Linked DNA regions of Homo sapiens. The protein of the gene in region 2 interacts with the protein of the main gene of each other region in a biochemical or structural test. Each region holds a gene or a part of one and is shown on either strand. Other genes may lie near its edges. The genes, in order: SHC2, ERBB2, FER, TXK, TNS3, CRK and PLCG2.

Evidence for each region.
Region 1: the proteins of ERBB2 (region 2) and SHC2 form a complex in vitro, tested with the Homo sapiens proteins (2 studies listed by BioGRID and IntAct, with this or other methods).
Region 3: the proteins of ERBB2 (region 2) and FER form a complex in vitro, tested with the Homo sapiens proteins (2 studies listed by BioGRID and IntAct, with this or other methods).
Region 4: the proteins of ERBB2 (region 2) and TXK form a complex in vitro, tested with the Homo sapiens proteins (2 studies listed by BioGRID and IntAct, with this or other methods).
Region 5: the proteins of ERBB2 (region 2) and TNS3 form a complex in vitro, tested with the Homo sapiens proteins (2 studies listed by BioGRID and IntAct, with this or other methods).
Region 6: the proteins of ERBB2 (region 2) and CRK form a complex in vitro, tested with the Homo sapiens proteins (2 studies listed by BioGRID and IntAct, with this or other methods).
Region 7: the proteins of ERBB2 (region 2) and PLCG2 form a complex in vitro, tested with the Homo sapiens proteins (2 studies listed by BioGRID and IntAct, with this or other methods).

Annotation. Positions count from the first base shown.
Region 1 is NC_000019.10:440,353-444,564, forward strand, and holds part of SHC2 (SHC-transforming protein 2), read right to left. Parts: intron 1,277-4,212; exon of another isoform or gene 733-1,276; intron 581-732; coding exon 510-580; intron 1-509. UniProt on the Homo sapiens protein: Signaling adapter that couples activated growth factor receptors to signaling pathway in neurons. Involved in the signal transduction pathways of neurotrophin-activated Trk receptors in cortical neurons.
Region 2 is NC_000017.11:39,710,042-39,714,253, reverse strand, and holds part of ERBB2 (receptor tyrosine-protein kinase erbB-2 isoform a precursor), read right to left. Parts: intron 4,169-4,212; coding exon 4,053-4,168; intron 3,915-4,052; coding exon 3,773-3,914; intron 2,327-3,772; coding exon 2,207-2,326; intron 1,933-2,206; coding exon 1,806-1,932; intron 1,102-1,805; coding exon of another isoform or gene 985-1,101; intron 1-984. UniProt on the Homo sapiens protein: Protein tyrosine kinase that is part of several cell surface receptor complexes, but that apparently needs a coreceptor for ligand binding. Essential component of a neuregulin-receptor complex, although neuregulins do not interact with it alone.
Region 3 is NC_000005.10:108,753,975-108,758,186, reverse strand, and holds part of FER (tyrosine-protein kinase Fer), read right to left. Parts: intron 1-4,212. UniProt on the Homo sapiens protein: Tyrosine-protein kinase that acts downstream of cell surface receptors for growth factors and plays a role in the regulation of the actin cytoskeleton, microtubule assembly, lamellipodia formation, cell adhesion, cell migration and chemotaxis.
Region 4 is NC_000004.12:48,109,942-48,114,153, forward strand, and holds part of TXK (tyrosine-protein kinase TXK), read right to left. Parts: exon of another isoform or gene 3,801-4,212; coding exon of another isoform or gene 3,721-3,800; intron 3,369-3,720; coding exon 3,266-3,368; intron 2,572-3,265; coding exon 2,366-2,571; intron 663-2,365; coding exon 597-662; intron 589-596; exon of another isoform or gene 63-588; coding exon of another isoform or gene 40-62; intron 1-39. UniProt on the Homo sapiens protein: Non-receptor tyrosine kinase that plays a redundant role with ITK in regulation of the adaptive immune response. Regulates the development, function and differentiation of conventional T-cells and nonconventional NKT-cells.
Region 5 is NC_000007.14:47,361,685-47,365,896, forward strand, and holds part of TNS3 (tensin-3), read right to left. Parts: intron 1-4,212. UniProt on the Homo sapiens protein: May act as a protein phosphatase and/or a lipid phosphatase. Involved in the dissociation of the integrin-tensin-actin complex. EGF activates TNS4 and down-regulates TNS3 which results in capping the tail of ITGB1.
Region 6 is NC_000017.11:1,445,697-1,449,908, forward strand, and holds part of CRK (adapter molecule crk), read right to left. Parts: intron 1-4,212. UniProt on the Homo sapiens protein: Involved in cell branching and adhesion mediated by BCAR1-CRK-RAPGEF1 signaling and activation of RAP1.
Region 7 is NC_000016.10:81,959,879-81,963,538, reverse strand, and holds the end of PLCG2 (1-phosphatidylinositol 4,5-bisphosphate phosphodiesterase gamma-2), read right to left. Parts: 3' UTR 854-3,660; downstream 1-853. UniProt on the Homo sapiens protein: The production of the second messenger molecules diacylglycerol (DAG) and inositol 1,4,5-trisphosphate (IP3) is mediated by activated phosphatidylinositol-specific phospholipase C enzymes. It is a crucial enzyme in transmembrane signaling.

The DNA.
Region 1 (4,212 bases), on a different chromosome or scaffold from region 2:
CGTGTAAACTGTCTCACATGGTTTTTTTAAGTCTATACGAATGGAATCAACCAGTTTTCACAGAAAAAAAGGGTGTCGCTCTCTTCCCTGCTTAAGCCCTGGCCATATCCACAGCCCCTGTGATTGCTTTCCAGACACCGCATAGCATCCTGAGGTCACCGTGTGGAAAACAGAGCAGGGACACGGAGACGCCACTGGGCCCCGGTCCCAGAGGGAACCCGCCAGGCCCTGCACCCCACGCCGTGCGGGGACTTGCCCAGCACCCTGTGAGCGACCGGCGTGTTCTTTCCATCTTAGAGGATCGAGGTCTGCAGGGCACGGTGACCGACACCTGGCGTGGGGACAGGGCGGAGACGTGGCGTGAAGTGGGAGGGAGGTGGGGGGCACCGAGGCTGCGTCCTGGGACCCCAGCGCGGCTGTCGGAGAGCCCATCGCTGCCGCCCTCCAGTGCTGCCGCCCTCCAGTGCGTCACTCAGCCCTACGCGGCCAGGGCAGGGTTGGAGGCTCACCTGGTCACCTGCGTGCGCGTGTTAAAGTCCAGGGAGCGCATAGAGCGGAGAACCTCGATGCAGCCCATGTACTGAGGGGAGAGAACAGGTGTCAGATGCCATCGGAACCCCCGCAGTGGAGCCACGTCCCTTTTCCCAGCAGCCCTTCGCCGCCTCCACCACCCCTGGGGTCGAGCCCTTTCCTCTGTCCCTGGTGGCTCTGGGGCCGTCGTGCCTCCCCCACCTCAAGGCCCAGCCTTGACACTGTCCTGCGAGCCGCCCCCTCTGACTCCAGGCATGTTTTTCTGTGTTGCTGTTTCTCAGGAGCCTGGTGGTTCCCCCAGACGCTCTATGCTGCTTGTTCATTTAACCGTCTTGCCCTCGTCGGTCTCTTTCTGTTCCACCAGCACCGAAGCCGAGGAGCGTGGGGATGGTGCGATCCTGAGCACTTCCCTATCTCCAGCGCCCAGTTCAGGGTCTGGCAAACAGTGGGGCAGACGTCCAGGGCAGCCACAGATGCACACACTGCTGGCCTCGCCCTCCACAGGAAGTTTGCGGGCTTCTGGCCCAGACAGCTGTTTCCATGAAAAGGGAATTCACCATCTCAATGACTGATAATACTGAGGGACGAGAGGGGCAGAGGCGTCCCACCGAGTCCCTGACCTGCTTCAGTGCCGTAAAGGGTGGGGGAACAGGGCCAGGAGGCGAAGGCCACAGCGTCCTTCCAACGTTGGCCCTTGCTGGAGGGAGGGTAAGGGGCACAGCCCACGTCATCTCTATGAAATGTCCTACAGAGGCAGCAAGAGCATGTGTGGGTGCCAGGAGCCGGGGAATGAAGGCTGACACGAACAGGTTTCCTACTGGGGTCATGAGAAATTCTGGAATTAGACAGAAGGGGTGGTGGCACGATATTATGAATGTACGAAATGCTACTGAACTGTGAAAAATGCAACATGCAAAATGATGAATAACGTTATGTGAAGTCCACCTCAGTTTCTTTAAATGATCAACACGCAAACACTTTGACCCTGCAGCTCCATTTTTAGGACTTTACCCCACAGATACATCAGCCTGAGGGCTTCTGAGGTGTGTACAGGTCACTGTGTGGGCCGGCCCAGGCTCTGCCCCTCTCCACGGCTCCATGTACCTGGAGCAGGGAGAGCAAGGAGCAGAGACAGATGTGAGAATGCAGGCAGGAAGCAGAGGCCACAGGACCTGGGCTGTGATGACGGGCAGGGGCTCATCCTGGGCCAGCTGGGGAGCCAGGGAGCACTTAAGCAGGGCATGGACTAAGCAGCCTCACCTCCTGTTGAATGGATGCATGATGGGTGGATGGACTGACAGAAAGATGGCAGGTGGATGGATGAATGAAAGAATGGATGGAAGATGAATAGATGGGTGGGTGAGTGGGTGAACGGATGGATGATGGGTGAGTGGATGATGGATGGATGGGTAGATGGATGGACAGGCAGATGGACAATGAATGGATGGGTGGGTGGATGGATGGAGGGTGGAAGGATGGATGGATGGGTGGGTGGGTAGATGAGTAGATGAGTGGATGGGTGGATGGATGGATGGACAGATGGATGGATGGGCGGGTGGATGGATGGATGGATGAATGGGTGGGTGGATGGGTGGGTGGATGGGTGGATGGATGGATGGACGGATGGATGGATGGATGGGTGGGTGGATGGATGGGTGGGTGGGTGGATGGGTGGGTGGGTGGACGGATGGCTGGATGGATGGGTGGGTGGATGGACGGGTGGGTGGGTGGGTGGATGAGTGAATGGGTGGATGGATGGATGGGTGGATGGATGGGTGGGTGGATGAGTGGATGGGTGGATGGGTGGGTGGACGGGTGGACGGATGGCTGGATGGATGGGTGGGTGGATGGACGGGTGGGTGGGTGGGTGGATGAGTGGATGGGTGGATGGATGGATGGATGGGTGGATGGATGGGTGGGTGGATGAGTGGATGGGTGGATGGGTGGGTGGATGGGTGGACGGGTGGACGGATGGATGGGTGGGTGGATAGATGAGTGGATGGGTGGGTGGATGAATGGATGGATGGACGGGTGGGTGGATGGGTGGATGGATGGGTGGGTGAATGGATGGATGGACGGGTGGGTGGATGGGTGGATGGATGGATGCATGGGTGGGTGGATGGATGGATGAATGGGTGGGTGGGTGGATGAATGGATGGATGGACGGGTGGGTGGATGAGTGGATGGGTGGGTGGATGGATGGAGGGTGGATGGATGGACAGATGGGTGGTTGGATGGGTGGACAGATGGGTAGATGGGTGGGTGGATGAATGGATGGATGGATGGGTGGGTAGATGAGTGCATGGGTGGATGGGTGGGTAGATGAGTGGATGGGTGAATGGATGGACAGATGGATAGTTGGATGGGTGGACAGATGGATGGATGGGTGGGTGGATGAATAGGTGCATGGATGGGTGGGTGGATGAGTGGATGGGTGGATGGATGGATGGGTGGATGGATGTGTAGGTGGATGGGTGGATGGACGGATGGATGGATGGGTGGGTGGATGAATGGATGGATGGACGGGTGAGTGGATGGGTGGGTGGATGGATGGACAGATGGATGGTTGGATGGGTGGACAGATGGGTGGATGAATGGATGGATGGATGGGTGGGTGGATGAGTGGATGGGTGGATGGATGGACAGATGGATGGATGGGTGGATGGATGTGTAGGTGGATGGGTGGATGGACGGGTGGGTGGATGAATGGATGGATGGACGGGTGAGTGGATGGGTGGGTGGATGGATGGACAGATGGATGGTTGGATGGGTGGACAGATGGGTGGATGAATGGATGGATGGATGGGTGGGTGGATGAATGGATGGATGGACGGGTGAGTGGATGGGTGGGTGGATGGATGGACGGATGGTTGGATGGGTGGACAGATGGGTGGATGGATGGATGGATGGGTGGGTGGATGAATAGGTGGATGGATGGGTGGGTGGATGAGTGCATGGGTGGATGGATGGACGGATGGATGGGTGGATGGATGTGTAGGTGGATGGGTGGGTGGATGGATGGATGGGTGGGTGGATGGATGGATGGATGGACGGGTGAATGGATGGGTGGGTGGATGGAGGGTGGATGGATGGACGGATGGTTGGATGGATGGACAGATGGATGGATGGGTGGATGGATGTGTAGGTGGATGGGTGGATGGACGGATGGATGGATGGGTGGGTGGATGGGTGGATGGATGGAGGGTGGATGGATGGACAGGTGGATGGTTGGATGGGTGGACAGATGGGTGGATTGGTGGGTGGATGAATGGATGGATGGATGGGTGGGTGGATGAGTAGATGGATGAATGGATGAACAGATGAATGGACTCTAGGCATGTAGTAGACAGGTCATACCTAAAGGAATTAGCCATGGTCCCTGTCCCTAGCACTGGATTCTCCCACTGAGGAGGCAGCTTTGGTGGGATGCTGGCTGCTCAATGGCTGTCTTCTCTCAGGCAGAGCATGTGCCTCTGGGATGATGTCTGTGCCAGTGTCTGGCGCTACAGGGCCATAGGGTGAGGGATTCTCATTCCCTTACCTGCCCCCTTATTAACACGTAGCCCACTCCGGTTGTGCGGCTGAAACCCTGAACTGTGTGGTCCATGGGTCCCGTTGTGGGGACACCAGCCTAGTGCACGGGGGAGGTGGGGGGCAAACCCTCTGTGGCCCACGGCAGCT
Region 2 (4,212 bases):
GTGCTCCCTATATGTTCCCATTTACAGAAACCAACCTCCCCACCAAAACGACGAAAACCACACTTCACTGTGTGTGTGTCTACAGATGCATAAACGGTCTAGGTGAACACACACACTGTTAACCATGGCCCCCTCTGGAAAGGGGAGTGGAGGTAAAGGAAGTGTGAAAGGGAATTTTTTTTTTTTTTTTTTTTTTGAGACAGGGTCTCATTCTGTCACCCAGGCTGGAGTACAGTGACATGATTTCAACCCACTGCAACCTCCACCTCCCAGGCTCAGGTGATTCTCCCACCTCAGTCTCCCTAGTAGCTGAGACTACAGGTGCGTACCACCATGCCCGGCTAATTTTTTGTGTTTTTTTGTAGAGATGGGATCTCACTATGTTGCCCACGCTGTTCTTGAATTCCTGGGCTCAAGCAATCTTCCTGCTTCAGCCTCCCAAAGTGCTGGGATTACAGGTGTGCACCACGGCGCCTGACCCTTTTTTTTTTTTTTCTTTTTGAGACAGGGTCTCACTCTGTCGCCCAGGCTGGAGTGCAATAGCGAAATCTCAGCTCACTACAACCTCCACCTCCCGAGTTCATGCAATTCTCCTGCCTCAGCCTCCCAAGTAGCTGGGATGATAGGCGCATGCCAGGAAGCCTGGCTAATTTTTTATATTTTTTAGTAGAGATGGGGTTTCACCATGTTGGCCAGGCTGGTCTTGAACTCCTGACCTCAAGTGATCTGCCTGCCTCGGCCTCCCAAAGTGCTGGGATTACAGGCGTGAGCCACCGTGCCTGGCCCCAATTCATTTCTTATTGAAGTATAACTTATATACAATAAAATGCACCGGGTGTGGTGGCTCATGCCTGTAATCCCAGCACTTTGGGAGGCTGAGGTGGGCGGATCACGACGTCAAGAGATCGAGACCATCCTTGCCAACATGGTGAAACCCCATCTCTATTAAAAATACAAAAATTAGCTGGGCATGGTGGCACACACCTGTAGTCCCAGCTACTCAGGAGACTGAGGCAGGAGAATTGCTTGAATCCAGGAGGCAGAGGTTGCAGTGAGCCAAGATCGTACCACTGCACTCCAGCCTGCTGACAGAGTGAGACTCTATCTCAAAAAATAAAATGAAATAAATAAAATGCACAGACTCTTATCACACAGTTTGATGAGTTTTGACAAATGGATTCGCTCATGTATCCACTACCCCAATCACTATACAGAGCATTTCTATTACCCCAGAAATGTCCTTGTGTGCCTCCCTTTTGAAGCCCCCCACCCTGGGGCAACCACCGTTCTGATCTCTCCCACCACAGAGTGGTTTTTTCGGTTCAGAGCCTCACATAAAGGGGATCAGACAGTATGGAATCTTGTCTCTGGCTTCTTTTGCTCAATGTAATGTTTCTGAGATTCATTTATGTTGTATCGGTAGTTCATTTCCTTTGGTTGCTAAGTAGAACTTCACCAAATGGATACACTGCCACTTGTTTATTCCTTCACCTAGTGATGCACATTTGAGTTATTTCCAATTTGGGGATATTTTGAATAAAGCTGCTATGAACTCAAAGGGAATTTTACTTTATCTAGATGGTCTGACCTCCATACAAGTCCTTGTTCACGGATAGCATGTCATTTACAAAAATAATCACCCCCACCCACCAAAGGCCCTGCTCCTCTGGTCTCCCATCTGCTTTCTTTGCATTCTTGATCCCCCCACTTCTGTCTCCTGCCATCCCCAAGAGATGCTGCCACATCTGGATCCTCAGGACTCTGTCTGCCCTGACACTGTCTCAGGTCATCGTGCCCACTCTTACCCATCAAAGCTCTCCGGCAGAAATGCCAGGCTCCCAAAGATCTTCTTGCAGCCAGCAAACTCCTGGATATTGGCACTGGTAACTGCCCTCACCTCTCGCAAGTGCTCCATGCCCAGACCATAGCACACTGAGGAGGTGGGGGTGGGTGGGGAAGGGGCCGTCTCAGCCTTCATACCGGGACAGGTCAACAGCCACATGAGCATCAGGGTCCGGGCCCCTCCCCACACTGACAGGGGATATAGGGACACTTGTAGGGCTGAGGGGGGCCAGGGGTAGAGAGTAGAAGGCAGAGACTAGGTCCCAAGAGGGTCTGAGGAAGGATAGGACAGGGTGGGCTGGGCCAGGCTGCATGCGCAGAGGGACAGGAACTGCAGCTGGCCTCGGGGGCAGTGAGTGGGTACCTCGGGCACAGGGCTTGCTGCACTTCTCACACCGCTGTGTTCCATCCTCTGCTGTCACCTCTTGGTTGTGCAGGGGGCAGACGAGGGTGCAGGATCCCACGTCCGTAGAAAGGTAGTTGTCTAAGGAGATCAGGAACATGTAGCCACATACCCTGGCCCTTCGTGCACCACCATGAGCAGCATTACCGTGCCCAGGCACAAGAAGAATAATATCAACCAATACTTAAATGCCCTACCACGCATCAGCACCTGACATCCATTTACCCCTCACAACAACCAGACGGGATCAGCACTGTGAGATTCCCATTTTGCAAAAAGGGAGACCAAAGCAGAGAGTTCTGTAAATTATTCAAGGTCATTGTGCTAGTGAGTGGAGGAGCGAGGATTTGAACCCAAATGGTCTGGCTCTACATTTTGTCCTCTCCCTAACACAGTCAGCCAGGATCTGAAGGCCCACTCCTGTTCCTGTGAGAGGAGGAAAGAGGTTCCCCAGGTCTGAGCCCAGTCCATAAACGCCCATCAGTAAATAGGTGATCTGTTAAATAAAACTGAGCTAGGCCAGGCACGATGGCTCATGCCTGTAATCCCAGCACTTTGGGAGACCAAGGCGGGTGGATCACTTGAGGTCAGGAGTTCGAGACCAGCTTGGCCAACATAGTGAAACTCCGTCTCTACTAAAAATACAAAAATTACCCAGCCATGGTGGTGCATGCCTGTAGTTCCACCTACTCAAGAGTCTGAGGCACAAGAATTGCTTGAATGCGGAAGGCAGAGGTTGCAGTGAGCCAAAATTGCACCACTGCACTCCAGCCTGGGCAATGGAGCGAGACTCTGCCAAAAAAAAAAAAGTCCGGGTGCAGTGGCTCACGCCTGTAATCCCAGCACTTTCAGAGGCCGAGGCAGGTGGATCGCCTGAAGTCAGGAGTTCGAGACCAGTCTGGCCAACGTGGTGAAACCCTGTCTCTACTAAAAATACAAAATTTAGCGAGGCATGGTGGTGGGCGCCTGTAATCCCAGCTACTCAGGAGGCTGAGACACGAGAATAGCACGAACCTGGGAGGCGGAGGTTGCAGTGAGCCGAGATCGCGCCACTGCGATAGAGCTAACTAAATTCGGTCTCAAAAACAAAACGAAAGGTAAAACTGACCTCACCAGGCTATAGAATAAAAGCTAACATTTAGGAGCACTTAGTACATACCAGGCACCGTTCTAAGAGCTTTACAAATATTAACTCTTTCAAATGTTATAACCATCTTATGCAGTTGGGACTATTCTTGCCCCCATTTTACTGATGAGGAAACTGAGGCACAGCAAGAGGGTCACGTGCCTACTAATTGATAGAGCTGGGTTTCAAACCCAGGCAGTCTGGCTCCCAAGTCTGGGCTCTTAGCTGCCTCTCCTTACTGCCACCTGCTCCACAGCTGTTGAAAGAACAAGGCAGCTCGGCAGGAACTGTCATGACCAGCTCTCAAAGCAAGATGCAGACAGTGCTCCCCATATGCTCCCATTTACAGAAACAAACCTCCCCACCAAAATGAGAAAACTGTGTTTCTCCCTGGCACTCACAGGGACAGGCAGTCACACAGCTGGCGCCGAATGTATACCGGCCCTCGGGATTGGGCATGGACTCAAACGTGTCTGTGTTGTAGGTGACCAGGGCTGGGCAGTGCAGCTCACAGATGCCACTGTGGTTGAAGTGGAGGCAGGCCTGGGGGGACAGGTGGCTGGCTTTCACTGTGCTGTTTTGCCCTGGTGTGCCAGGGGCAATAGGGCAGTACCAGGCAGGGTGCCCACCCCTTGCATCCTGGGGGGTAGAGCACATTGGGCACAAAGCAGAGGCACATACCAGGCAGTCAGAGTGCTTGGGGCCCGTGCAGCCGGCAGCACACTGCTCATGGCAGCAGTCAGTGGGCAGTGGCCCCTTGCAGCGGGCACAGCCACCGGCACAGACAGTGCGCGTCACTGTTGGGCAAAGGGCAGGATGAGGGCTGAGTGGCGCCCTGGGC
Region 3 (4,212 bases), on a different chromosome or scaffold from region 2:
TAACATCTGTAGAAAGACCGAAAATGGAAGAATCACATCCCTTCCTGCTTTCTGTCCCATTCCTGCAACAGCTTGCCTCTTGTCTAGCATAGAACATTTCTACATTATTTTTATAATGTAGATTGAAGGCCATGTCTATCTCTTCACCATCTTCATCCTCTTTCAAAATCCATGATATTAGTGTATATAATAGCAAGTATCTCCAAGCTAAGACATTTAGATCTTAGAATGCCAGTTCCAGACACAGGGTAAACCAGGCTCCAAAATACAGAAAAGAAATCAGAAACTTAAAACAGGCAACCACCAAGGTAAGGTCTAGCTCCTATATTTGTTATGATTAATTGTGAAATAGTCACCATAGCAAACCCCTATTATCCCAGAAGTTAGGACACTGTTGTTTATGTTAACATTTTAAGATATTTGTCAGAACTATATTAACTTCTAGAAAGTAGTAGCTGTTAATAAACAAATTCCTTTCAAATATTATTGTTGAGGGTGCGACAGAAGGGATGGAGGACAGGATTTATGAACGTAAGATTCCTGACATTTTCAAGAAGTCTGTCTAAAGACCATGAGAATTTTTGACAGAGCTGGAACACTCAATGAAAATGTTTCACAAATTAACTTTTTTTTACCTCTAAGGCATGGAGGATTGATGTGCGTCAAGATCAAAGACTCACTGAATTCAACATTCCATTGTTAAATTTATTCAAAAATGTCTGTTTTCTAGCTAAGATCCACCACCTTCTCAGGCCTCTTTATTCTCTCTCCACTTCTAGCAGCTGGCTTTCTTTTTCAGGAAATTTTTTTACAAAGAAACATGTTATAACTTCACAGAAGTTATAGTTTAGGACAATCTCAAACAGAACAAAGCCAAAGCAAGATATAGACACAAGACTGTTAGCCAGGAGCATGAATATCTTAGGGTCTTGCTTCTAATGAGAGGAAGTAATCTCAGCAAAACTGCAAATATTTCAACATAGACCTTTAGAGTTGCTCCCAAATAGCTGAAACTTCTATTAAATCCAGGACCATTAATAGTTTACTACAGACTTTTACCATTTACATTTATTTCAGGTTTAGAGTATGAAACACCCAAGTTCAAATCCCAGTATCATTTTATAACTGGGTCTCCTTGGATAAATGATATGACCTAAAATTGGTTCCAGATCACAAAAAGAACATGCAAGCCATCAAATTCATAAATTCAAAAGAAATGTACAAAAGTGCATCACACTTTTAGCAGGCACTAAAGAAATGTTAGTGCCCCCACCATTATATCTGAAGCCATGTAATTTACTAAAAGACTTAAGACTTATATTGACAGAAACTGTCTCTACCTGGGAGGTTAAAATGTTGAGGAGGGGAGAAAAAAGAACTATACAAAAACAAAACAAAAAATGTGTGTGTGTGTAGGAGAAAGAAATTGGCTTCTTCCTTTGTAAAATTTTCTATTGTATATAAATCTACATAAAGATTCTCATACATCATCCCCAACATAAATGCTTGTAAATAATTGAAATACTGATCTATCATTAATTATATAGTATATTAATAAGTTATATTGACCTATAATTAATTACATATTACCATTATATGTTATCATTAATAATTATCTGAAACAACTACATTGTTTAGTTCCCCTTAATTACTCTCCTATAGCAAATTTATTAAATATATTAAAAGTAAACAGGCATCACAAAGTAATGGTACTTAGCCAAATACATAAATTTGGAGTAGATTCAGAATGGTCAGGAAATGCGATAGTGACTGGATTTTCCATATTACAAAGTCCATCACACACTTCTATACTGAAACAAAGAAAAAAGGTGATACCTGAAAATGTTTCCTTTGCTCCTAGTAAAGCAAAGTTTCTAAAACCTTAGTGAAAATTTAAGTAATGGTTAACCTATATAAGAACGTACATAGAAAGCATGTAATTCTAAAAGAAAAATAATTCAAGAGAAAGTCAAGACACTGTATATTTTCTTTTTATTGTATTTATTATTATTATTTTTTTTTTTTTTTTTGAGATGGAGTTTCTCGCTCTTGTCACCCAGGCTGGAGTGCAATGGCATGGTCTCGGCTCACCGCAACCTCCACCTCCCGTGTTCAAGCAATTCTCCTGCCTCAGTCTCCCAAGTAGCTGGGATTACAGGTGCGTGCCATCACACCCAGCTAATTTTTGTATTTTTTTAGTAAAGACAGGGTTTCACCATGTTGGCCAGGCTGGTCTCAAACTCCTGACCTCAGGTGATCCACCCACCTCGGCCTCCCAAAGTGCTGGGATTACAGGTGTGACCCACAGTGCCCGGCTGATACTGTATATTTTCATAAAACAAGATGTGGTATAGCTGCTAGGGTGGCTACTGACCCATTTGTTATCAAAACTGAACACTGCAGCCAGCCACTGTGGCTCATGCCTGTAATCCCAGCACTTTGGGAGGCCAAGGCGGGTGGATCACCTGAGGTCAGGAGTTTGTGACAAGCCTGACTAACATGGTGAAACCCCATCTCTACTAAATACAAAAAAATTAGCCGGGCGTGGTGGTGCATGCCTGTAATCCCAGCTACTCGGGAGGCTGAGGCAGGAGAATTGCTTGAACCCGGGAGGTGGAGGTTGCGGTGAGCCGAGATTGTGCCATTGCACTTCAGCCTGGGCAACAAGAGTGGAATTCTGTCTCAAAAAACAACAACAAAAAAACCCTGAACACTGCTAGAAGAGTCAAATGCACTTTTCTTTGTAGAATGTGAAATTAACAAGGGAGCCCCATCAATCCACGGAAGCTTGGGAAAGTCTCCCAAGCTGAAGACATCCAGAGAAAGGACACATACTACAGAAGTGTTCAACTCCAAGGAGAAAACATCCAAGAAACAGAAGCATACAGAAAAGCATTACAGCGACCAAGGACTAAACCTTGTGACAACGCAGCAAGCTTTGTGATTAAGCCAGAAATGCTCTTTTATTCTGCAAACTATAGGATACAAGGGGCAAGAATAAGAACCTTGCCTGTATACAAATAATGTAATGCAAAGTTGTCTAGTCTTCATTTCAGAAGCAAAAAAATTAATAGCTTTAATGACTCGAGTCCTCCTTACCGGATTGTACGGGTCTGAAGGGATCACTTAAACTTTTCCATTAAATTTGACTGCATTTTATGGAGGTGGTTATATCCTAGATTCACAAAGGTTTCAGGAAATACCACTTGCAAATATCAAAGGTCTACTAAGTCTTCACTTGGAACTGTATATTATACGTGGTACTTCCACATAGGATGAGTGATTTAAAATTAAGCTCTATTCATGGTAATGCAAAGATACTTTTCTGACTGAGCCAATGTAAAGAGCATTTTTACATTCTAAGTGCCTAGAAAATAAAAATTCTAGTACTGTTTCCACTTCTCTTAAAACCATGAGTCCCAATATAGAAATAGCCTTTTTGCAAGCAAAATGATTTACACTAGAAAACTAATTTCAATTTTTGTACAACAATTAGTGTTATTCCAGTCACAATACAGACTGAGGTACTGTTACCTAAATATTTTTACATGTTCATTAAGTTATTCTAACTTTTAAATATAGGTCTCTATTAATGACATAAAATTAGTGTAATAATATTTTCTTATGTAGCATTATAAGAATGATAAGAAAAACTAAAGGGGCATTCACTTCAGGAAAATGTGGAAATAACTTGGGTCCCTTACAGAATTGTAAGGTATGTCTTCAGTACTTGTTACTAACAATACTTACACACTATTTTTTTTTTTTTTTTTTTTTTTTGAGACAGGGACTCACTCTGTTGCCCAGGCCGAAGCACAGTGCTGCAATCATAGCTCAATGCAGTATTGAACTCCTGGGCTCAAGGAATCCTCCTGCCTTAGCCACCTTAGTAGTAGTACAAGCACATGCCATCATATCGGGCTAATTTTTTAACTTTTTTGTAGAGTGCCGTCTCGTTATGTTACCCAGGCTGCTCTCAAACTTCTAGGCTCAAGTGATCCTCTCGTTTCAGCCTCCCAAAATACTGTGATTACAGGCATGAGCCACTGCACCCAGCCCACATTTTTTAATGACTCACTTTCTCCAATAAATCAGAGTAGATTCAAGTTTATACCCATAATGATGTCACTCTCAATCATCTGCATTCTAATATGCTTTCTTGAATAGGAGAGAGACTGAATTAGAGCTCGCATGCTAGAAAACTGCACAGTG
Region 4 (4,212 bases), on a different chromosome or scaffold from region 2:
TTATAAAAAACATATGACTAGTCTCAGGCCGTTCTCTACCTGTAATCTATCAGTCTTCTCATCTGCAAAATGAGGGGCTAAAAAAGTGATTGCTAAGATTTCCTCCATCTTCCAAATCTGTAATTGTAACAAAAATAGATTTCAGGCGGAACTCTAGTGAACATGCCAAACAGTTCTTCCAAACTACAGCATTAGCCTAGTTCTTATCGTCAGCTATTTCTAAAACATATAAAAACATAAGCCAAAATATAGTACTTTATCTATATGGTTAAGTTTACCACTCATTGAAAATTTAATGTCATTTTTTAAAGTAAATTTTCCAGTTAAGATATATAGTAAAATAAGTGCCAGATGAGTGTTTGGGTTCAGGCTGTCACTGTTAAAACAGAAAAAGTGGCTATACAAAACAGAACAAAAATAAGTATAAGGAAAAGAAGTTTCTGAATCAACCATGATAAGGATCAAACGTCTCTTTATTATTAACGCTGTCAAATGTGTTACTTTTTTTTCCTTCTACAGACCCAAAACAGTATCTATACTTACAAGCTGCCAAAATGTCCCTGATTTTCATAGGTTATATTTTGGAGAAGACTTACTCATATATTTCTAAATTAGTTATTTTGTTTTCAGTCACATAGTTGCTTGGGATTAAGCCTTCATTCCTACAACAAAAGAAAAAGCAAAAATCAAAATGCTTGGCATGTTTGTGGCATTATCATGGCAACAATCCTTTTAAAACCTCAAGGATGTAGGGGGGAAATCAAATTCATTTTACTGATTAAATTGTTAAAAGGAGAAAAAAAAGTTTTTTTATTTCTAACTCAACAAAAATCTCTGTACAAGGAATGTATTAAGATGCCAACTTGTAATGTGAGTAGTTTAAGAGGTTTTATGACCCCACAATCTTTTCAGAGAGAAAAAGGGGCACTTAAATGATCATCTGATATCATAGTGATTATGTTAAAAACACAGCAATTACAAAGACATCGACTTCATTCTTTTCAATTGCTGAGGAGTATTCCATAGCATAGGTATTCTAGTTTAGCTACTTTGCTAGTAGAAGCAACGCTGTAAAGAAATCCTTGAACACGCCTTCTTGTACAGAAGAATATTTCTCAAAGACAGATAGCAAAGACGGGAATTGCTAAGTCACGGGATATGTACATCTTTCAGGATATGCAACAAATTGTCCTCAAAGGAGGATATACCAACTTACACACCTATCAGCATGGTAGAAGTTTCACTTTTCCTATACCTTAACCAACATTTGAAATTACAAAAAGATCTCCAAGACATATTATTGAGAAATAAAAGTAAGTTGCAGAATCATGCAGAAAGTAAGATAAGATTTAGGTAAATGAATTCTACAAACAATACCATATATTTTGATATGTGCATGTAAGTATACTGAAAATAATCTGAAAATGGATAATAGTATTTACTTTTGGGGAGACACTTGGGTTTGGAGGTAGTGGCAAAGCAGAATTTTGACATTAATGTTTGCATATTATATATTTTTAAAAACTCTATTCACTTACTGTGAAATAAAAAATTCAATTTTTAAGTCTGAGGCATGCCAATAGTATACCCGCAGGTGTGGCTAATTACACAGTCCTGAACCTACTAATGCCTCTTTTTCCACTGAAAAGTCTCCACCACATGTTGAGAACTGTTAAGAGAGCCACATCATTGAGAAAATGTAGTTGGAGAGGTATGTAATTTACATGCTTATAATACTTAGATACTTAAAATCTCCAAATCTTGGCAAATATCAGAAATCAATGCCAGCCTTCTCTCTCAGGAAGTCCAGATATTCCTCAGAATTCTTCTCAACTCAGGACTCCAGTCAGGCATTAACCATCTGTTGCAATTGGCACAATGAAACCTATCTGCATCCCAGGGTCTTTTTTCTTTCTAATCTAATTCAGCAGCGACTGCAATGTTTGCTTTCAAAACTAGTCATTCTAGAAACATAAAAGTGAATAAAATACTATTTCTGTTCTTACCTTAGAGCTTAACAGGAAAAAACTGACAAATTCCCAAATGAAAGCACAAATTAGAATAAGAACCTACATTGTCAGAATTATTATTTCCATTGTACAAATAAAGAAACAAAAACTCAGAGACGGTAAGTGACTTGCCCGGGGACACACAATAGTAAGCGGCAGCATCAGGATGTGAAGCCAGGTGTATCTGGTTCTGAGACTCTGCCTGAAATCACTGTTCTCTCATTCTCTCACACATCCTGGGGGAGAGGGGACAGATTCCATTTCATGCAGAGGGAAGAGTTATAAGCCTGAGTCACTAAGTAGTCTTCTTTGTGTTGGAAGAATTGGATACTGACTAAGTCATGTAAGTGTCTTACCCCAAACGGTCTCTTGCCTTCCACCAGTGAGGATTGTATTTCTCCAGTATCAGGTATTCTTCTGCTCTCCTTAAGGCTAAATTACAGGGTTCTCTGGGCAGAAAATCATAAAGTGCCTTGACTTGGATCTTCTCTTCAGCAACCTCAGAGGGTGGGAGGGGAGGCAGTGGCTTTCGTTTTGACGGCTGCACACGGCCCGTGTTGGACTGTGAAAACCAATAAGTGAGTTGTTTTACTATCATTTTAATAATTTGTACTAAAAAATATAGGGACAAAGCATATTTGCCTTCTGCCTCACTTTTCTTATCCAGCTACACCAAGGCAGAAGCCAGGATGAGATAAATGTAGAAAAGGACTAACTATAAAACTCCTTTAGGATCCAGCAATACACTCATCATTTTGTACACTTTTGAGATCACAAGTTCTCTTGACAGCATTTTACTGGATTTTTTTTCATATCAAAATTTTCAAAAGATGATGTACTCCTCTTCAATAGTTTTACCTTGTTTTAAGGATTTTTTTTCTCCTTAAAAGAAGAAAAATGGCCTTTTTCTTTTTATGTGGTGGCAGTTTGTGCTTGGGTTTACCATACTTCCTAAGAATGCTGTTTCTCACTGAAGTGAAAATTAATCTCAGCCTCAAAATGACAGAAGCCAGAATATGTTTTTTCCCACTCATTGCCCATTTTCAAGTTCTGCCTTTAAATATAAGTAGCCTATTTTAACTGGTCTTTTCTTTTTCCTTTTACTTTCTTCTAGAACATTCCTTCACAAATTACTGAGCACTTATTTTATGCCAAGCAGGATACTAGATTCTGGGCAACAAACAGCACCTCATGAATGAAGACTCTAAAAAGACAACCTTCTCCATTCCCCTCTTGCCTGTCAAAATGATACTTACTTGCTTCTTATTTGACAATTGGCTGAGCCACGGCCTGCGACGCTGGGTGTATTTTTCTGGAAGCTCTTCATCTGTGCTCAGGCTTATCTGTGTTCTCATTTGTCTGACATTGAAAAGCAATCATGTTACAAATAATTATTTGTACAAAAGTTATCTATACATCCACTAGATTTTCACAGAAATAGCAGAAAAATCCAGGTCTCTTTCCAACTCCATTTTCATTTAGAAGGCTTCCTAACTCCATCTCCCTGGGCAAATTACTGGTTTTAAGAACTTAAGTTTCCTTCTCCAGGAACTAGAGGTGCTAAGAGCATAGAGTTGTTATAAAATAAAATTGAGAAAACATGTCACATTCCCAGTAGAGTCTGGTGCATCTTCAGGGCATAAAGTTATAATCATTGTAATGAAAACTTACTCCATATCTGGCTCAGTGTTTGTCATTTTATATGCATTACCTCATTTGATGGTGTCTTTTTGTTATAAATAGACATGGTATAGTGATTAGGAACAAGAGTTTGAATCCCAGCTCCACCATTTCATAGTGTGGCCTTGGGTAAGCAATGTAACCTCTCTAATCTTCAATTTCCTCATCTGTAAAATGGGGATCATAAAAAAAAAAAGTAGGTGGTTTTGAGAACTGTATGAGTTAATAAACATAAATCTTTTAGCATAGTATCTGATATACAGGAAGCTCCTGTTAAATGTTAGCTTTTTCTGTTAACATGCTGCCTTGGATTTAATTCTTACAGAGTCATTTACTGCCACCAAAGTATAAGATACACCGGTAGTTTTGGGGAGATAGATAACTAAGATAGGATTCTTGCCCTTAAAGGGAAAAAATACGTATTGGAGCACAGACCTATAAACAACATACATGAAATAAAAATTAAGTGGAGAACAATGCCGCACACGGTGGGAATGCAATGGAATGAACAATGAAATCTAAA
Region 5 (4,212 bases), on a different chromosome or scaffold from region 2:
TACAGTTTCCATTGCTCTGAACTTTCTTTAGGATGCACAGGTTATCAGCCATGGGTTAGCACTAACAGAGCAGATGCCGAGTCTGGGAGGGACATTAAATGCCTGGTGGGAATGCCACAGCACTATCTGCAAGCAGAACAGGGCCTGCCAGGTTGCTGTCATCACAGGGTGGAGGTTGATGTAACATGAATAAAATATTTTGACAACATGAAGCAAAGAGCCCTCAAGGTATGAAAAAAAACCACAGAACTGGCTTTTTGCCACCCACGGAATCATGAATTTCACAGGTTGAGTCATTTCTTTTGTTACTGGGATATCATCAGTTGAAATATTCTCCCACTTAAAAGGGTATGATACAAAAAACCCACCACGTGCAGGCTGAAACCAGGCTGAGACCCAGAGTGGGGCGGGGACAATGAGCCTGGCAGCAGCACCCAGGGGCTCTTCCACAAAACACCAGTGGCAGCAGAAGTCAGACCAGAGTGAGGGAGCAGGGCCTCATGGCTGGCAGGCACTTGTGGGGAGTAAAATGTCCCCAAACCAACTCCCTGAATCTCACCCATTCTACAAGAAGGATACAAAACTGTGCTCACTGGCACACAGAGCACCCAGGTCTCAGCCACCAGAGCTTTGTGATACCCCACCTCTGGAGGGCCTCTCTCTGATCTTGTAGGTGGGCAGGGCTACTCTACACTGTCCAGCGATAAATCTCCCCTCAGTGCCCATTCAGCAGAGTAGTTCAGGTCTCAAAAGGATCATTTGCAGTTCCGCCTGTCCCAGACCCCTGTATTTGCAAACATATGTCGAACTCTTCCTGCATGCCAGGGAAAAAAAATAATGAGCACTTCCCTCAACAGGTTTACTGGCTGGTGTAAGAGTGTGAGTTTAGTGGAATTAGGACATAGCCATGGGGTGCAGAGTCAGAGAGACGAGAGCTCTGTTACGTGTCCTGGTGAAATGAAGGTACCTAAAACAGTGTAGGCACTCAGAGTAACAGTTCTTACTATTACCAACATCATCAACATCACCATCACTAACACCACCATAAACATCATCACTATCATCACAGTCATCACCGTCATCATCACTATCACCAAAGCATCATCACCACCATCAGCATCATCACCATCATCACAGTCATAACCATCATCACTGTCATCATCACCATCACCATTACCACCATCAACATCATCACAGTCATCACCATCACCATCACCACCATCAACATCACCATTACCACCATTAACATCATCACCACCATCAACATCACCACCATCATCAGAGTCATTTACCATCACCATCACCAACATCATCACAGTCATCACCATCATCAGGGTCATCACCATCACCATCAACATCATCACCACCATCACCGTCATCATCCACCATCACCACCATCAATATCACAGTCATCACCATCATCATCATCATCATCATCACCATCATCACTGTCATCATCACCATCATCATCATCAGTCATCACCATCATAAGGGTCATCACCATCAACATCAACATCATCACCACCATCAACATCACCATCATTACAATCAACACCACCACCATATCCATCACCACCATCAATATCATCACAGTCATTACCATCATCACCATCACCATCATCATCACCATCACCATCACTGTGATCATCACCACCATCAGCAGCAGCACCACTATTATTATTATGGTGCTGGTATGAAAGACTTTCTCAGGAAATACTTAGCCTTCACATATAATTTTCATCTCATAAATAATGCAGGATGCACAGAAGTCCCCCGGAGGAGCACAGGGCAATGCTATTCCCAACTCTCTACCACAAGTGGTGGTCTTTCTCATAATGAGGACATAATCTGCAAATAGTGAAAGATTCTGGTAACTTCAGGATGCTGAGGTCTCTGTGACAAACCTTCATCCACAGTCAGAATTAAGAAAGTTGTGTAGCAGTTTGTGTCCAGGGATGAGATGGAAGGCAGGCCAGCAAGAAGGGGCTCATGTAGACATAGTGCTCTCAGAACTTCCAGTCTATGGTTTCCCCTTGTGAGCGAGACTCAAGGTAGTCTCCAGTCAGTCAGGCAATGCCACACTATCTATGGGGCTGAACCTCATGCACACAGATGTGGAAATGATGCCCCTTGCAGGGTTAGGTGATGGTACCATTCTGGGCATGTCATGAGCCTTTTGGACGTGCCAGAATCCTTCCTATTCACACATGGATCTAAGCTGAAAGAGGAGGGCTCCAGCTCAACAGCCCTGGTCTCCTTTGGCTGGCTGAGGAGACGGATATGGATTGAGGGATCTAGGACACCTTCAAAGTGCAGGCACTCCAGCAGCATCCCCAACCTTCTGACGATGTCCCAGGGACTCGGAACTAGCTGCTTTGCTACCACACTTGTACGCGTGTCCCTGCTAGGATCTAGTAATTTTTGTTTTCTGCCGCTTGCCAAAGTAGCCATTTCCTATTGAGAAATGTCAATACTGAAATTTAAATTTTAAAATCAAAAGAGTTCCAGTGTTTTCTATACCTGCTAGTGAGGGAAGAAACAATTCCTTCCTTGCTTAGCTGCAGTGCCTGAGAGCTACAGAAGTAAGCAATAATTTTTTTTTTTTTTTTTTTTTTTGGGCCAGAGTGCTTGCTCTGTCACCCAGGCTGGAGTGCAGTGCACGGTCTCAGTTCACTGCAATCTCTGCCTCCTGGGTTCAAGTGATTCTCCTGCCTCAGCCTCCCAAGAAGCTGGAATTACAGGCATGCACCACCATGCCTGACCAATTTTTGTAACTTTGTAGAGACAGGGTTTTGCCATGTTGGCCAGGCTGGTCTTGAACTCCTGACCTCAGGTGATCTGCCTGCCTCGGCCCAGTAAGCATCTTTTAATGGGATTTCTATCAGGTCAGAAAGTCTTGGACTGAGATCCAAAAGCCTGCCATGCAGGCTGTTCAGAGACCACCTCTACACTGTGCAGGCTTTTGACACTAAATGAAGTGCAAGTCTCAAGGCTTGCTCCATCTCCCAGCTTGGTGCTTACCTAGCACAAGAGGCACGTCCTGGAAGAGGAAGCGGAGCTCCCAGGAAGGGCATGGCTCACTCTGCCCTGTTTCCAATGCTGCGGCTAACCCTTCAGTGTCCATTCATCACTGCTCATGGACAGTTGCTCATGTGTGGCAGGGTTCCTACAAGAAGGTCACTTCCCAATTTTAAAAAGCTCTGGGGAGACTGGTAACCAGTTTTGCTTATACCTAATCTTCTGACATCTTTTTAGTTCTGAAGCTATGAAAAAAATGGACCAATGGCCCCAGATGCCTGTCAAATATGAATAGATTAATAAATACTTTAAATTTGTATTGTCAATACCCAAATATGCACTGAATTTTACTGGTCTGTTGTTGAGATATGAAAGTCCTTAGACTTCAAAATGATAATTAAATAACTTTTATAATAAAACGCATTAAAGAGTATCTAAAATCAAAATCAAAATGTGTTATTGGGCTGGGCGCGGTGGCTCATGCCTGTAATCCCAGCACTTTGGGAGGCCAAGGTGGGCAGATCGTGAGGTCGGGAGTTCAAGACCACCTTGGCCAATATGGTGAAACCCCATCTCTACTAAAAATACAAAAATTAACCAGGCATGGAGGTGCACGCCTGTAGTCCCAGCTACTCGGGAGGCTGAGCCAAGAGAATCATTTGAACCCAGGAGGCGGAGGTTGCAGTGAGCCAAGATTGTGCCACTGCACTCCAGCCTGGGCGACAGAGCAAGACTCCATCTCAAAAAAAAAAAAAAAGTGTTCTCAAAGTAACGAGTTTGGCTGGGAGCAACGGCTCATGCCTGTAATCCCAGCACTTTGGGAAGCCGAGGGGGGCGGATCACAAGGTCAGGAGATCGAGACCTTCTTGGCTAACATGGTGAAACTCCATCTCTACTAAAAATACAAAAAAATTAGCCGGGCGTGATGGCGGGCGCCTGTAGTCCCAGCTACTGGGTTGAGGCAGGAGAATGGTGCGAACCCGGGAGGTGGAGCTTGCAGTAAGCTGAGATCACGCCATTGCACTCCAGCTTGGGCGACAGAGTGAGACTCTGTCTCAAAAAAATAAATAAAAAAATAAAGTAATGAGTTTACCAAGTAATTTAAAAACAGCCAAACTGAGGGTGGATAATATGATGTGGCTTTCGAAAATTCCAGGCCTTATAACTGTTTCTTTGCAGCAAGAACAGGGAATC
Region 6 (4,212 bases), about 38 Mb from region 2:
GACAGGGTCAGTGTGAGCGCATAGGGACCTACTTAGCACTGCCTGGTCAAGAAAACTCTAGGGCAGAGTGGTAAGGAGGCCACCTGGGCACCCATGGCTTAGAAATGGTTCTGATCACAGCTGGGTGGAGAAAAGCTCCCTTGCTAAGGTTTACCCAACTACATGCCAAGGTGTTCTATTAGTTGTCCTTTTGGGACAGTGGTTGGCAGGTCAGTGCTCAGTTAAGTGTTGCTAATTTTTATATTTTTAGAAGAGATGGGGTTTCACCATGTTGGCCAGGATGGTCTTGATCTCTTGACCTTGTGATCTGCCTGCCTCGGCCTCCCAAAGTACTGGGATGACAGGCATGAGCCACCGCGCCCAGCCAGATATTATCTTAATAAGCCTAACTCTGAAGTGATGGAAAGAAGCTAAGCACAATGCCTTCCTAGACTGGAGAAGCTCAGAGAAGTTCACAGCATTGTTGGAGATAACACAGCAAGCACAGTGTGGCTGGTGAACAAGGAGAAAGCGGCACGTCTTAGGAAGACAACCTCCCACCCGGCTTTCACCTTCACCTGGATCTATGTTCCTGCTAAAGACAGTTGGAATAACGCACTGTGTCCTGAGATACAACAGAATCGCCATGAGCAACTACGACCATCTGTGAACACTTCCAAGGTACTCTCTCCACTGGAAGAAGGAAGGTAACCACCCCCTGCCAGCCACTGTTACCATAGCAGGCCGAGCGAAATACATTTTGGCGGGGAAAGAACAAATGAGACTACTAAGCCAAGTCGCTCTGAAAGATGAGTGAGAGAAAACTTGGCAGATCATCTGGCGCAAAGGTAGGAAGCAGGTTTAATTCTCTTCTTGGTCAAATGCCACAATAGCGTGAACTGGGCTCACTATGACTTTTTTTTTTTTTTTTTTTGAGGCGGAGTCTCGCTCTTTCGCCTAGGCTGGACTGCAGTGGCGCCATCTCGGCTCACTGCAAGCTCCGCTTCCTGGGTTCACGCCATTCTCCTGCCTCAGCCTCCCGAGCAGCTGGGACTACAGGTGCCCGCCACCACGCCCGGGTTTTTTTTTCTGTATTTCTAGTAGAGACGGGGTTTCACCGTGTTAACCAGGATGGTCTCGATCTCCTGACCTCGTGATCCGCCCGCCTCGGCCTCCCAAAGTGCTGGGATTACAGGCGTGAGCCACCACGCCCGGCCGTGACTTTCTTTTTGTTTGGCAATCCCAATAGACACAGAAACGTAAGCAAAACGCCACGGAAAACCTTTGATGTACTTTACTTATAAATTATTTTTCTATTCTGACACTGTAATAATTTCACAGAGAAATGCCCGTTTCTGTGAACTGCTGGGGGCCATCAAGCTTCATTGATCCAAACTCCAGAAGGAAGGGAGGAGAACAGAACACACATAAGTCCCAGATAAGCCCAAACCTCACCATGGCTGTGTGTTCCGGCTCCTTTTCTCTCTTTCCTCTCCTTCCAACCACAAACAGCCAAAGGCAGGAAATAGAAGGGCGGGAAAGGAAGGAGGCACAGTCAGCCAGTCTAGAGAACAGAAGCAACGACAGGATTCTCATAGCTATCTGGGACTTGGAAAACCTCAATGACTTGTTCTACATCACCCTGTGCTGGATTCTGAACGTGGAGTTAGGAAGTCACACAAACGGAAATCAAAATCAATGCAAGGAGAGGATATCCTTTCAGCTTCTCGGTACCTGCTCAGCCCGTTACTTCTAAGCCTTCCAAGCATTTCAAGCCTCAGGTTACGACCATTTTTACAAGGCCACTCCCTCCCTGAAGGTTTCATGAAGAACACCTGAGGGCTCTGTGGGCTAAAATAGGCCCAATCACTTCTGACGGGTCTACAAGAGCGGGCCAGGCTCTCCTTGATCTCACAGCACTTTCTCTTTTCCTTTTTTTTTTTTTTTTTTTGAGACGGAGTCTCCCTCTGTTGCCCAGGCTGGAGTACAGTGGTGCGATCTCAGCTCACTGCAACCTCTGCCTCCTGCCTCCTGGGTTCAAGCAATTCTCCCTTCCTTAGCCTCTCGAGTAGCTGGGATTACAGGCGCCCACCACCACACCTGGCTAATTCTTGTATTTTTAGGAAAGACAGGGTTTTGCCATGTTGGCCAGGCTGGTCTCGAACTCCTGACCTCAAGTGATCAGCCAGCCTCAGCCTCCCAAAGTGCTGGGATTACAGGCGCGAGCCACCACACCCGGCCCTCTTTTCCCTTTTTTCCTCAATTCTTGCTCCCTCCCTTCCTTCTCTGCCTGTGGTATTTACAGGGGTTGCTTAGATAAATACCCACCAATACAAAACGCTAAAAAGGCCACTGGCTCGGGAGGCTGAGGCAGGAGAATCGCTTGAACCCGGGAGGCGGAACTTGCAGTGAGCAGAGATCGCGCCACTGCACTCCAGCCTGGGCGACAGAAGGCCACTGGTTTCCATCTGAGAAGATATATGGTCTCCTAAGCAAATAGAATGTTCTAAAGATGGTGGGTATGAGGACGGTCCTTTGCAGGTTTGGTGCATTGTGGCTCTCATTTTCTAGCTGTCTGAGTTACCTAACTTCTGTGTGCCTCACCCCCGACTCTGCAAAATGGGGTCAAATACCTATCTAATAAATAAAGTTCCTAAAGTGGCTAGAGGCTGGGCGTGGGGGTTCACGCCTGTAATCCCAGTACTTTGGGTGGCAGAGCCAGGCAAATCACTGAGGTCAGGAGTTCAAGACCAGCCTGATCAACATGGTGAAACCCATCTCTACTAAAAATGCAAAAATTAGCTGGGCATGGTGGTGCACGCCTGTAGTCCCAGCTGCTGGGGAGGCTGAGGCAGGAGAACTGCCTGAACCTGGGAGGCAGAGCTTGCAGTGAGCCGAGAATATGCCATTGCACTCCAGCCTGGGTGAGAGCAAGACTCCATCTCAAAAAAAAAAAAAAAAAAAAAAGAAAAAGTGGCTCGTACATTATAGGTGCTCAATAAAAAGCAACCAATTCTCCAAATTCCTTCAGCAATTTTCAATTCATCCTCAAATCCAGAGCCCACTGGACCGTTTCCCAGAGAAAATTCCACAGGATCTCAAGATGCTTCTCAAAAGTTCTGTGGTCAGGCAGGTGCGGTGGCTCACACCTGTAATCTCAGCACTTTGGGAGGCTGAGGCAGGAGGATCTCTTTATTTTTTTCTCTATTTTTAAAAACTGATTAACCAATCTTTAGGGAGACATCTGTTGAGGCCAGGAGTGCAAGCCCAGCCTGGGTCATACAGTGAGGCTGTAGTGAGCTATGACGGAGCCACTGCACACCAGCCTGAGCAACAGGGCCATCAGCAGTCTCACGCTACCTCCAGAAGTGGCTTGGCCCAGCTGCCAGCCTGGCATGTAGCTCTTCACTACCTCGAGGGAGTATCACAAACTATTACCACCCTAGCTTCTGTCCCACGCCTTCAAAATGAAGCACGTTTTATGCCCCCCTCCACCCACTAGCGCAACAGGTCGGATGAGCAGGTAACAGGAGGCACCATCTTATTTCCAAGTGCTGGACCCGAGGTCCTTTCACACTTACGGATGCACTCCACCCAGGCACCTACTCCCCAAGACAAACTGTTTCACCAGTTCCTACCATCCACAGCATGAATTCCACAGCCTCTCAAAGATAAGAAGTTTTCCATTTTGCTTCAAAAGCCCCCACACCTCAGTTATGTTATTAAGATTCGTATACATGAAATGCTTATGGAGTACTTAGTATGCCAGTACTGAATATGGAGTATCATTCCAACAACCCTATGAGATCAGTATTACTATTTCCCTCCTTCACAGATGAGGAAACTGAAGCAGGGAAAAGTTAAACAATTTGCCCAAAGTTACACAAGCAGTAAGTGGTAGGTAAATAAGGCCCAACCCAGGATCCACAGCTCAAGCTTATAACGACTCTCCTAACTCACACTCCTTCAGCTGTGTCAACCTGAAAGGTTTAGCTGTTCAAGAGAAAAAAAACTAGTTTCTTGCAAGCATTCCAAGGAGGTCCATCTTGAAGCCCAACCTGACAGAATGTGACCAGTAGACTTGGCCAAGCCCTTCCTTATGGCCCCAGGGAACTCCCAAGCTATGGCACCACAGGAAGCCTATGCAAGCTGAGGACCCAAGACAAGTTAAAAACAGGTTCAACGGAAAAGGCTGAGAATCACTGGCCCATTCTGTACCCATGCCTTTAAAAA
Region 7 (3,660 bases), on a different chromosome or scaffold from region 2:
ATAAAACTGGTAAAACCAGTGATCAGTATCCACAAGGGAATGATCAATGGAATCTCCACAGGACACAGTTTGCATTTCTACGGACAGGAATAATTTGCATTATTCGGACAATAAAACGTGGAGAAACCGTATAAAATCAGATAATCTGGATAGCGGATAACCTATACTGTATGTATATATATTGTTCTCTGCATTCTCCTTTAAACAAGCTGGAACATCTCACTGGTTCCTTTGTTAATTAATAAGATTTCTGACATATGTTCATTATATATCTTTATGAGAGTTATGGTTGTATCCATTTAAAAAGTGGTCATTTGGCAGTTCTAATTTCATCTTTGCTTTTTACTATTCCTTGCTCATCTTCTAATGCAGAGGTTTGTCATAGGCTATTATTAAATCTTTGGACCAGGGTAACTAATCCAACCACTGGGGGCTGGGGGTTGGGGGTCAGAGGTATGAGATACAACATGGCTTCCTGTGGACCAGGGATTGTTGGCAAGAAACGCAGTGATTGACAGTTCTAGGGAGCCTATCACTCAGCTGAGAAATACAGGGACTTACTATAAGGTCCTCGCTCCTTCCAACACTAAACATTCTTTCAAAACTGATAAATTGAAGAGCACTCAAGTATTAATCGTACAAACTTGAGTTTCAACACAGAGTGAGTTTTTGCTGAAGATAAACCTGTAACCCAAAGAAACGTGGGATAAATAGGATAGTAAAACACATTTCAAAAAATAACTGTAACTCTACCTATCTCATGACTAAATTATTGTATGTGTGTGTGTGTTTTATTTGGGAATATAAAAGGTGAATAGCAGTTTTTAAAAAAAGTTCTGGGCAGATTGCTATATTCATTCAGATGAAACTTTTATTTTTCAAAATGTGATACAGCTGTTTAATTTTCACATTAACAACAGCCAACATCTGTGTGACTCATTCACTTAATTCTCTATGTACACAAAGCACATACTATTTATATAAAAAATAAATTAAGCTTTAATAATGAAACACAAGTTTACAAATGCAGCTTCTTAAGGCCTAATGAAAAATAAGAAATGTGGAAATTTCTGAGAGGCAGGATCACTGGAATCTGGCTCTTCAAAAAGAAAATATTTTGAAAATTAAAAACCAGGGACAAATTATTGAGTATTTTTAAATGCCAATTTTCTAATTCTGTATAATTCCAAATCTAATTATTAACTTTTTGTTGGTTAGAAGATAGCTTTTACGGTTGGGTTCAAAAAGTTAAATGTCACACAGGTTGAAGGTTAAGCTATTTTCCTTTTAAAGTCAAAAGGGTTGAGGTCCTTTTTAGCCATCCTTTTTGCTTCCAAATACAATTCATCACTTAGTGGCCCTAGATCAGCAATCTTGAGAGCTTGTTTGGAGGTTCCAGCAGGGGAGCGCAGCTACTCGTATACCCTTGACCGAAGACCGGTCCTCCTCTATCGGGGTTGGTCGTCCTCTTCGACGGAGCGCGCAGCTTCGGGAGGGACGCACATGGAGCGGTGAGGTAGGAAGGGGACACCCACCTAGCCAGCCAGATCAGCCGAATCAACCCTGGCGATCAATGGGGTGACAGATGTCGCAGCCAGATCGCCCTCACATCCGATCAGCAATCTTAACATTTTATGCTCAGATACTCTTAAGTGAATTTTGAAAATCTCTATCTTCTTGCACATTGCTATATTGACATCTAAAATTTCTCATTATAAATAGCTGCAAAGTGCTGGCATACCGTAGACACTACATGTTTAAATAAAACTGTTGTATTACTTTTTAAATTTAGCCCAGGAGGTTCTTAATATAAGTTATTTGATAGATACTATGATCTTTTTAAAAATTTTATGAACAGGGCCATTTTTTTATGATCAGTCTTACCTGGAACAAGGCAATTTTTAGTAGCAAGGAATGCCCCACTTTTCCTTTTACTCCTTGAATTTGTATTTTCATACCACTTCTCCCTCAAAATTTTAGCCTAATAAATTTTTGATTTTTATGTTATTTAATTCTATCTCTGTACCAAAAGTATTATATAGTATCCTATAATCCTAAGGCTGTAAGCCTTTAAAATTTTCCTCTGGATTGAGCTGAATCAATAAACACATAGCCCAAATTTCACTAAATTATTAAACATAGTAAAACTTCTTTGGAAATGTATCACTTAATGAGATAAAGAGGGCTTTTCTCCACAATTATTTCATCTATGTAGATTGATAACATCTTAAGATTGAGCCAAAGTTCATCATCAATTCTATTTTCCGTTTTCAATTTCATTTATGGAGATGTTGATCCTTGTTCACACAGATACATCAATGGGAACGGAAGCTTTATGATAGCAGAATCACTGAATTCTTCCAACCCCTTTGTAGTTACATGCTAAGAGACTCAGAAATCTACAGGCTGTTCCTCCCACTTTGTTGAAAGCAAAAAATTTGGAACCACCAGAAAAACTTGGAAAATCCATTTGCAAAAAGATTTGTGCCCTGTTGATAAGTCTTTCACTTTCCAAATATCCACATTTTGAATTTTTACACCTTGGGACATGCTCTACAGTAAGACTAGAGGTGGAGACAGCCATATTTTCTTTTGTAAGGTGAGAAAAGGGCATTTTCTCAGGCAGATGAATCTTAGAGAAGAATATAACAGGAAGATGAGGCTCTGAACACTGCTCCCCTGAGAGTACTGGAGTCTGTGTATTCCTTGGAAAGCTCTGGTATACTCCCAGGGGTAAGGCTAGCTTAATCTAAAGGCCACTGGCCATGGCGACTTAAGTTTAGATTTTAACTAGGTCACAAAGCATACGAAGTATTAGAACATGTTGTCCGGCTGCCTTCTTAATAGAGCAGTAGGTCTTCAAATGTGTTCCACTATAGATAAGTCCCATGAGACACTTCTGGCAAAAAGATTCTGAGATCGAATTTGGAAAACAAGACCCTCTACACCTTTCACTCCTGCACATCTAGTCTCACAGTAGAAAAACTTTATTTAGTTTTTATAACCTAAGTTTCCCAAACTCACAAGGCCTAACCAGCCTCCCCACTTTATTTTTCCTTGTAATAACCAATATTCTAAATAACACACTTAGGAAAATGGTGAACAAAAACAGTGTAATACATATGCAGTGGTGGTTTTGATCTATCAGTGCTGCTTCCATCTTTCAGAATGTGCCTGTTACTAGTCTTCTTGGCCTGGATTGGCTGTGCTTTAACAGTCATGTAGGAAGCATGTCTCAGCTAGATACTGAAGTTATGTAGCATCACATAGACTCTGGGAAGAGCCATCATACCATGTGTGCCTTTCCTGAGAGAATCAGTCCCTAACACCACCAAGAACCAGATTAACGTGTTACTCTGTCAAGGACAGGAGGAAAGAACCGAAGAAAGTACTCTCTCATGGTGGATTCCGGTTGTAGCACCAGGAGAAGGAGACAGTTTTAGGCAGAGGGTTCTTCCCAGCACCATTTATGTCATAATCCCCTGACTTCTCTTTGGCCACGCATGGATTTTACACAGCAGCAGCTGGAGAGAGGCTTAGCTTCTGCTTCCTATGCCGCCATATGTCAGGTTCTTTGATATGGTAGCAAAAAACCCATTTGGGCAGAAAGGGGATGCAGGCCTTAGCACTGTGGCTTTAAAGTAGAATGAAGTGAGGAGC